2 linked regions of the Homo sapiens genome follow. The protein of the gene in region 1 purifies or fractionates together with the protein of each later gene. This does not show direct contact. Each region holds a gene or a part of one and is shown on either strand. Other genes may lie near its edges.

Region 1 (3,600 bases):
TTCCAGGAACTTGAGAATCAATAACTCTTTAAACCAGTGGTAATTCATGTGGAAAAGTTCAGAACAAATCAGCATCAACTTCCTGGCTCTCTTGCACAGACAAAAAATTCATATTGCTTCACCAATTTTCAAAAATGTAAATTTGTGTATATAAGTTTAAAACTTGGACCAAAAGTTATCTACATTTATTCCCAATTTGCGACTGGTATCAAGATCAATTAACTTTCTCAGCAAGTACACTGTTATAAAATTCCACAGTGATCCCAGAATGGAAGGGGCTTAAAAAATAATATAAAACAAAAATTAAACTCCACAGTGAAGTAGGTCTATGTTTAATCATTCAGAAAAAGAAAATTATGTAACATATTATATATAATGATGATGATAACATATGCTGTTCTGGACTCCTACTGAGAGCTGTGGTTCAAAGGGAAATCGTGAAAATAAAGTAAAAATTGCCGAAAATGTTTAATTCTGCCCAAAACAGTTTCCAAAAAAGAAGCCAAATATAATATTTTATTTTAAGTTCAAACAGGGTTCAAACAGCTCAGAAATTTTGTATACTTAAGTTTTCAGAAGTCGAATCCCAGAACCGCTATCAACATAAACTGAATAACTTGCTCAAGAGTCCTTACTTATTACCCAATCTTAGGTCCCCCAGAATACTTCTTAAAATAATCCCAAATGTACTACAATAGATTAGCGTAACCGGGGCTACGCTGTTTACAGGTGTCTCCACCTCCTCCCCCAAGGAGAGAAGAGGTATACTAGGGTAAACAGAAAATAGAAGGAGACTATATACACACCAAATAACAGCTTGTAATCTTCTAAGACTTCTTTTACATTCGGGCTATTCTTTTCATTAACGTATAATACATTTTAAAGAATAACATATTCACAGAGTAATACAATTTCTGCCCTCACGGGTCTCTAGCTGGCTGACACGCGTTTTCTCCTCAAATAAATACATGCCTGTTGACTGATGCCTGTCCTGCTGTTGCAAACAAGAAATAACTGTCCTATAAGACAAAAACCTCTCTCTACGGTTCTAGGCGTAACCATACGTTTGAATTAAAAGCACATTGGAACAACAACAACAATCTTCCAGCACATCTGTCATTTAAAAGCACGATAATGAAAAGCTGTCGCTGCGACCCAATTTTAGGTCACAAGCTTTTTACTGTTTTTCCTGCCCCCCACCTCCAGAAAACAATAAACTTCAAAGGGAATGGTGGTAACCAGGAACAGTTCCCTTCCCCCACCACACACCCCCCCAAAAAGACTAGAAAAAAAACTGGTCAACTTGGACGCTGGCCGCGCTCACGCAGAACCCGTGCCCGCGGGCCGGGGAAGGCTGAACAGACCCTGGGAGGAAAAGTGGGCCTGCAGGCACCCCGGGCTCCCCCCGCCGCCTGTCTCAGATACCGAGCAGGTGGGATTCCGGGAAGCCACCTCCGACTTACGTAACGGGCTTGTCAAAATCCCAGATCCAGGACCTCCCCCTCCCCGCCCCCACTCCCAAATAACAACAGCCCCAGGCCAGCCTGGAATAGAAAATCTGGAATGAAAACACAGGAGCCCCCCACGCGTCCGACGCAGAGGCGCGGGTGCTACTCTCAGCACCGCCGCGCCATCCCGGGGCGGACCGAGCCGCGGAGCACCTCCCGGATCTCAGGAGCTCTCGGGCGGAGATCTCGGCCATCCGTGCCTCCTCCCCGAACCCACCCGCCCCGCTCCCGCGCCCCCGGCTGTCACCTCTCCGGGCCGTGACAGCTCCACCTGCCACCGCTGCCCGGGTCGCCGCCCCCGCACTCACCACCCAGCTGGCTCCCGTGCGAGCAGCGGATCGAGCTCGGAGAGCGGCGCCGGAATCCCGCACGCGCGGTAGCGGAACACGAGGGGCTGAATGCCGCGGCGCTCTGAGCCCGCTTAGCTCATCCCCAGCCCGGCGCTCCGCCCTTCGCGGCACCCCCGCCCGCCCGCCCAGGCCTGCCGTCTCAGTCAGACGGGACTCCCCCTCCCCTCGCGGCCGCCACTGCCTCCGCCTCTTTCTCCGACTCTAGCCTCCGCGGCCACCGCGACCGGCGCCATCTTGGCAATGACGGAAGGGGCGGGGGCGGGAATCACGCCCGCGAGCACCAATCGAAGGCCGGATCTGGCCCGAGTGGGAGGAGAGGGCCGAGTTGAGGGTCGTGGGGTCCTAGCGCCAAACTGATAATGGGGCGGTGAAGGTGGGCGGGACTAAGTCGCCTTAGTCCGTGACGTGCGGTGTAGTTGGGGAAACGCACCGTGGTTCCCCGTCGGGTCAGGAGATCCCGAGCCCCAGGCTGGCGTGGGCGAAGCGTACAATCCCTTCACCTTTCGTCACCCAGAGGCACAAGAATCCAGTTCGCGCCAACTGACCTGTTTCTTCCTTCCTCCCCGGCACTCTGGGAGTCCTGAGATTGCCTTGCTCGGTTCGTCTCAGACTTGCTAGATCTGAGCAGCTGCTGCTCCTCCACCAAGGGTGCTCACATTCTCCAGGAAACTCCCTTAAGGGTTAGCAACCGCCGAGTAGGTTTCGGTCCCAAGATAGAAAGGTAAAGCGGGGAATTCAGGGGGTTTCTCCGAAAAGTACGTTGATGAAACAGCTATTGTTGACTGACGGGGTGTCGATTACTTTGGATTAATTGGATACGGCCTACTTAAACCTGACTGTGGCTCTCCACCATTGATGGCTGTTGACAGATGAGGTTAATAAAGCTTGATTACCCCCATGGGGTTGCTCGGGAGTTAAATTCTATAGTACCTGTGAAGTACTTAGTATAGTGCTTGAAAGTACTCAATAAATGTTAGACATTATTCCATGGACAAATGAAAGAAGAAACAGGACCCCCAAAATCCCTCTGCTTTAAAGTCAACTTTTCCTAAATTGCATAGCCTTTTACTAACCAAGTTTACAACTTTATTTCCTACCTCCAGTTCTTTCATTGTATTCATTCATTCAGTCAACAAACATCCATACAGAGGGTGCACAGTGGTGAGGGAAACAGAAAACCTTTGCCTTCAGGAAACTGCAGTTTAGTGGGAGAAGAGGGACAATAAAAAAGTACTTAAGCACATTTTAAGGGGAAACATGCTATAAAGGTTAGAAAAATAACTGAGGCCAGGCGCCTTTGCTCATGCCTGTAATCCCAACGCTTAGGGAGGCCGAGGCAAGAGGGTCAGCTTGAGCTCAGAAGTTCAAGACTAGCCTGGCAAAATGGCGAGAACCCTGTCTCCACCAAAAATACAAAAAATTAGCCGGGCGTGGTGGCGTGCGCCTGTGGTCCCAGCTACTTGAGAGGCTGAGGTGGGAGGATCGCTTGAGCCCCAGAGCCGGAGGCTGCAGTGAGCCGAGATTGTGCCACTGCACTCCAGCCTGGGTGACAGAGCAAGATTTTGCTTTAAAACAAAACAAAACAATCGAGTTGCATACTTTAAATATATGTAGTCCTCTGTATGTCAGTTAAAGCTGTAAAAAAAGACTTGTTTTTGACACAGAGTCTTGCTATGTTGCCCAGGCTGGAGTGCAGTGGCCTGATCACGGCTTACTACAGCCTCCCTCCCAGGCTCAATTGA
Region 2 (3,672 bases), on another chromosome or scaffold:
CAGACGCCTATTAAGTGTCTGCTCTCCTCTCCTCTGTACACACAAGATGTTCACCATGCGCTCATTCCCTGCCTTCCTGTCAGGAGGTACCAACAGAGCTCAGACAGATGGGGCTCCTGAAGGGTCCCGGGATGCACCTCAGAGGCTCTGCCCTGATCCTCTTTGGCCCCGCCCCTGATCCTCTCTGGCCCCGCCCTCCGCGAGGCCCCGCTCATGCTAGCTCAGCTCACTTGTCTGGTTTGAGGTCACGGTGCACGATGCCATAGTTATGCAGGTACTCCAGCGCCAACACCGTCTCGGCGAAGTACAGGCGGGCCATGTCCACGGGCAGCGGGCCCATGTTCTTCAGGAGCGTGGCGCAGTCGCCGCCTGGGAGAAGGGCGGATGTAGTCATGAGGCCCGGGGCACCCCCGCCCCCCGCCCGCCCCTTAGGTTATGCCCAATGCCTATGCATCCTCCTCGCTTTACCTCCTGCAAAAGGTCCCCAGTTTGTTCTATCTCAGCGGGGAGGGTCGGGGGAGAGGGAAGGGGCGGACCCTACCTTCATTTATTTTTAATTTTTTAATTTTTTCTTCTTTTTGAGAGAGAGTCTCGCTCTGTCGCCAGGCTGGAGTGCAGTGGCGCGATCTCGGCTCACTGCAACCTCCGCCTCCCGGGTTCAAGCGAGTCTCCTGCCCCAGCCTCCAGAGTAGCTGGGATTACAGGCGCACACCACCACACCCAGCTAATTTTTGTATTCTTAGTAGAGATGGGGCTTCACTATGTTGGTCAGGATGGTCTCGATCTCTTGACCTCGTGATCCACCAGCCTTGGCCTCCCAAAGTGCTGAGATTACAGGCGTTGGCCACCGCGCCTGGCCTATTTTTTAAATTTTTATTTATTTTTTTGAGACAGAGTCTCACTCTGTTGCCCGCTCTGTTGCCCAGGCTAGAGTGCAGTGGCGCAGTCTCGGCTCACTGCAAGCTCCGCCTCTAGAGTTCAAGCGAATCTCCTGCTTCAGCCTCCCGAGTAGCTGGGACTATAGGCGTGAATGGGGGTTTCGCCATGTTGCTTAGGCTGGTCTCGAAGTCCTGACCTCAAGCGATCAGCCCACTTCGGCCTCCCAAAGTGCTGGGACTACAGGCGTGAGCCAGCGCGCCAAGCTGAGACCCTGCCTTCTGATTCTCCCCGACAGGGCAGCAATTAGTGCTGTATACAGCTGGTGTCTCCTAAGTGCATGTTCGCTCTCTCGCCTGGCAGTACTTTGGTAATAGTACTTTACCTGCCTGAACCATACATCTCCCTGCCTTCACTTCTGGTCTCCAGGCCTCTGCCCATCAGTTCCCCCCACCTAGGATGGCCACCCTCCTCTTGCCTCCAGGGTCCCATCCTCACACACTCCTGTCTGGGCTCCTCCAGCCCTAAACCCCCATGGCTGGGCTCCCTACCCCAGACTGGGGTTCCTGAGGGTTCCCCAAAGCAGGGTGAGACCTCATGGAGGACAGAACAGACCTCAACTTGGTCTAAAAATTTTCTCCCAGGCGTGGAGGGGTGAGCTCCCCATCGCTGGAGGCATGCAAGCCCCAGTGAGCGTACCTTCCACGTATTCCATGACCATACATAGGTGGCGCCGGGTCTCAAAGGAGCAGAACATGCTGACCACAAAGGGGTTCTCGGCAAAGGTGAGAATGTCACGCTCCACAAAGACCTGCTGGATCTGGTTACGCAGGATCAAGTTCTGTTTGTTGATCTTCTTGATGGCAAAGCGCTGCCGTGTGTCACGGTGCCGCACCAGGTAGACGGCCCTGGGGACAGAGGGCCAGGCTTGCTGGGACCGGAGATCGAGGCCCCAGCAGGCACTACAGCTCAACTTGAGCCCAGATCCCAACCTGCCTGGCCTTTGCCTGTGCTGTGCCCTCCACCTGGGCCACCCATTCTCCTTACCTGTTCCCCCTCCCAGAGCAGCCACCTTTGGGTTTAAGCCACCATGGCTGGGGGCCATATAAATGGGCTGCACATGGCCCTTGTATATTGGCCTCTAGGTTGTATGTTTCTTTTATTTTTATTTTATCTTATGTTTTTTGAGATAGCGCCTCACTCTGTTGCCCAGGCTGGAGCACAGTCATGAGATCACGGCTCACTATAGTCTTTACCACCCCCCCGGCTCAAATGATCCTCCCACAACAGAACCTGGCTAATGTTTAAATTTTTTGTAGAGATGGGGTCTCGCTATGTTGTGGAGGCTAGTCTCAAACTCCTGGCCTCAAGTGACCCTCCCACTTCGGGCTCCCAAAGTGCTGGGATTATAGGCGAGAGCCACTGCACCTGGCTGCTTGTGTATTTCTTTCTTTCTTTCTTTCCTTTTTTTTTTTTTTTGAGATGGTCTCACTGTGTCACCCAGGCTGGAGTGCAGTGGGGTGATCTCGGCTCACTGCAACCTCTGCCTCCTGGGTTCAGGTGATCCTCCAACTTCAGCCTCCCAAGTAGCTGGAATTACAGGCATGTGCCATTACGCCCAGTTAATTATTCTATTTTTAGTATTGATGGAGTTTTGCCATGTTGCCCAGGCTGGTCTCGAACTCCTGGCCTCAAGCGATCCTCCTACCTTGGCCTCCCAAAGTGCCTCCGCACCTGGTCTAGCTCTTTTAAAAGACCGCTAGCACCAAACTCAAAGTTTTACACATCCGTTTGTTTTACACACAGACCAAGTAAGCAAAATTTTAGCCACTGAGAGCCTGTCTGCTTTGCAGACTCGTGAAACTGCACCATCTCTGAGCCATGGATAAGATGAACTTTGTGGATTTCAAGACCCTAAGCTGCTACCACCCTGCAGGGAGTCTCTGACCCAGAGATTGAGTGCCCATGCTGTTGAACAACATCACCTAGACATGTAAGCCCCCTCTCTGATCCCCCTCTGCCCGGGGAGTTCCCTTGCCGGCCTCTCCCTCTTGATGGTGACTCCTGGAACCTCAGCCTCCAAAAGGCTTATGCTATGAGGGACTTCCCTTGTATGCAAGCCTGCCATTCAAAGCAGCACCTAAATAAAGCTCACTGCGTGCTACTCCCACTGGGTGGGCATCTATTTCCTTGATCAGCCCCCAAGCCCCTAGAACGCCCTACACCTGGGGCAGGTAAAGGCCTGGCTCGTGGACAGAGCACACATGAGGCTGTAACCTCGCTATGGCGTGTCTCCACTTCCCCCTCCAGTCCTCAGGTGCCTTCTCTGCCCATTCAAGGATGAATGTGTGAGCCCTGCTGGGGTAGGAGGGGGATGCAGGAGCTGCCTGGGCCTCAACCATCCCCTCAGGCATCTGTGAAATGGGTCTATGCAGGACTCAGGGACTCACCCATAGGCTCCGTTGCTAATGAGTTTGATGGTCTCAAAGTCGCTTTCGCATGGCTTCCTCCGTGACTGGCCGACCAGGGCGCGGCTCTAGGGGATGGGAAGGGCTTAGGGTCCTGCCCCGCTGCAGAGCTGGGAAGGCTTCTCCTGCCCCCAAGCCCAAACCACTGGTCCTGGTGCCCGATGCTACCTCCTCCCCTGTCCAAACTTCTCCAACTCAGCTTCTGACTTTCTGTACTTTTTTGCTCACAGCTGTGCCCTCCTCCTGGGAAATTCTTACACGTCCTGCAAAACTCACCTGTCCAGTGCCCCTCCAGCACTGCCCCCACCCGACTTCCAAGGCAGGGCAG

The links. The genes of interacting proteins can lie anywhere in the genome.
Region 2: the proteins of DENND4A (region 1) and MAST3 purify together in Homo sapiens (affinity purification with mass spectrometry, with the first as the bait; one large-scale study listed by BioGRID). This does not show direct contact.

What each region holds. Positions count from the first base shown.
Region 1 is NC_000015.10:65,790,194-65,793,793, forward strand, and holds the start of DENND4A (C-myc promoter-binding protein), read right to left. Parts: upstream 2,101-3,600; 5' UTR 1,817-2,100; exon of another isoform or gene 1,756-1,816; intron 1-1,755. UniProt on the Homo sapiens protein: Probable guanine nucleotide exchange factor (GEF) which may activate RAB10. Promotes the exchange of GDP to GTP, converting inactive GDP-bound Rab proteins into their active GTP-bound form.
Region 2 is NC_000019.10:18,128,606-18,132,277, reverse strand, and holds part of MAST3 (microtubule-associated serine/threonine-protein kinase 3), read right to left. Parts: intron 3,413-3,672; coding exon 3,327-3,412; intron 1,785-3,326; coding exon 1,576-1,784; intron 370-1,575; coding exon 231-369; intron 1-230.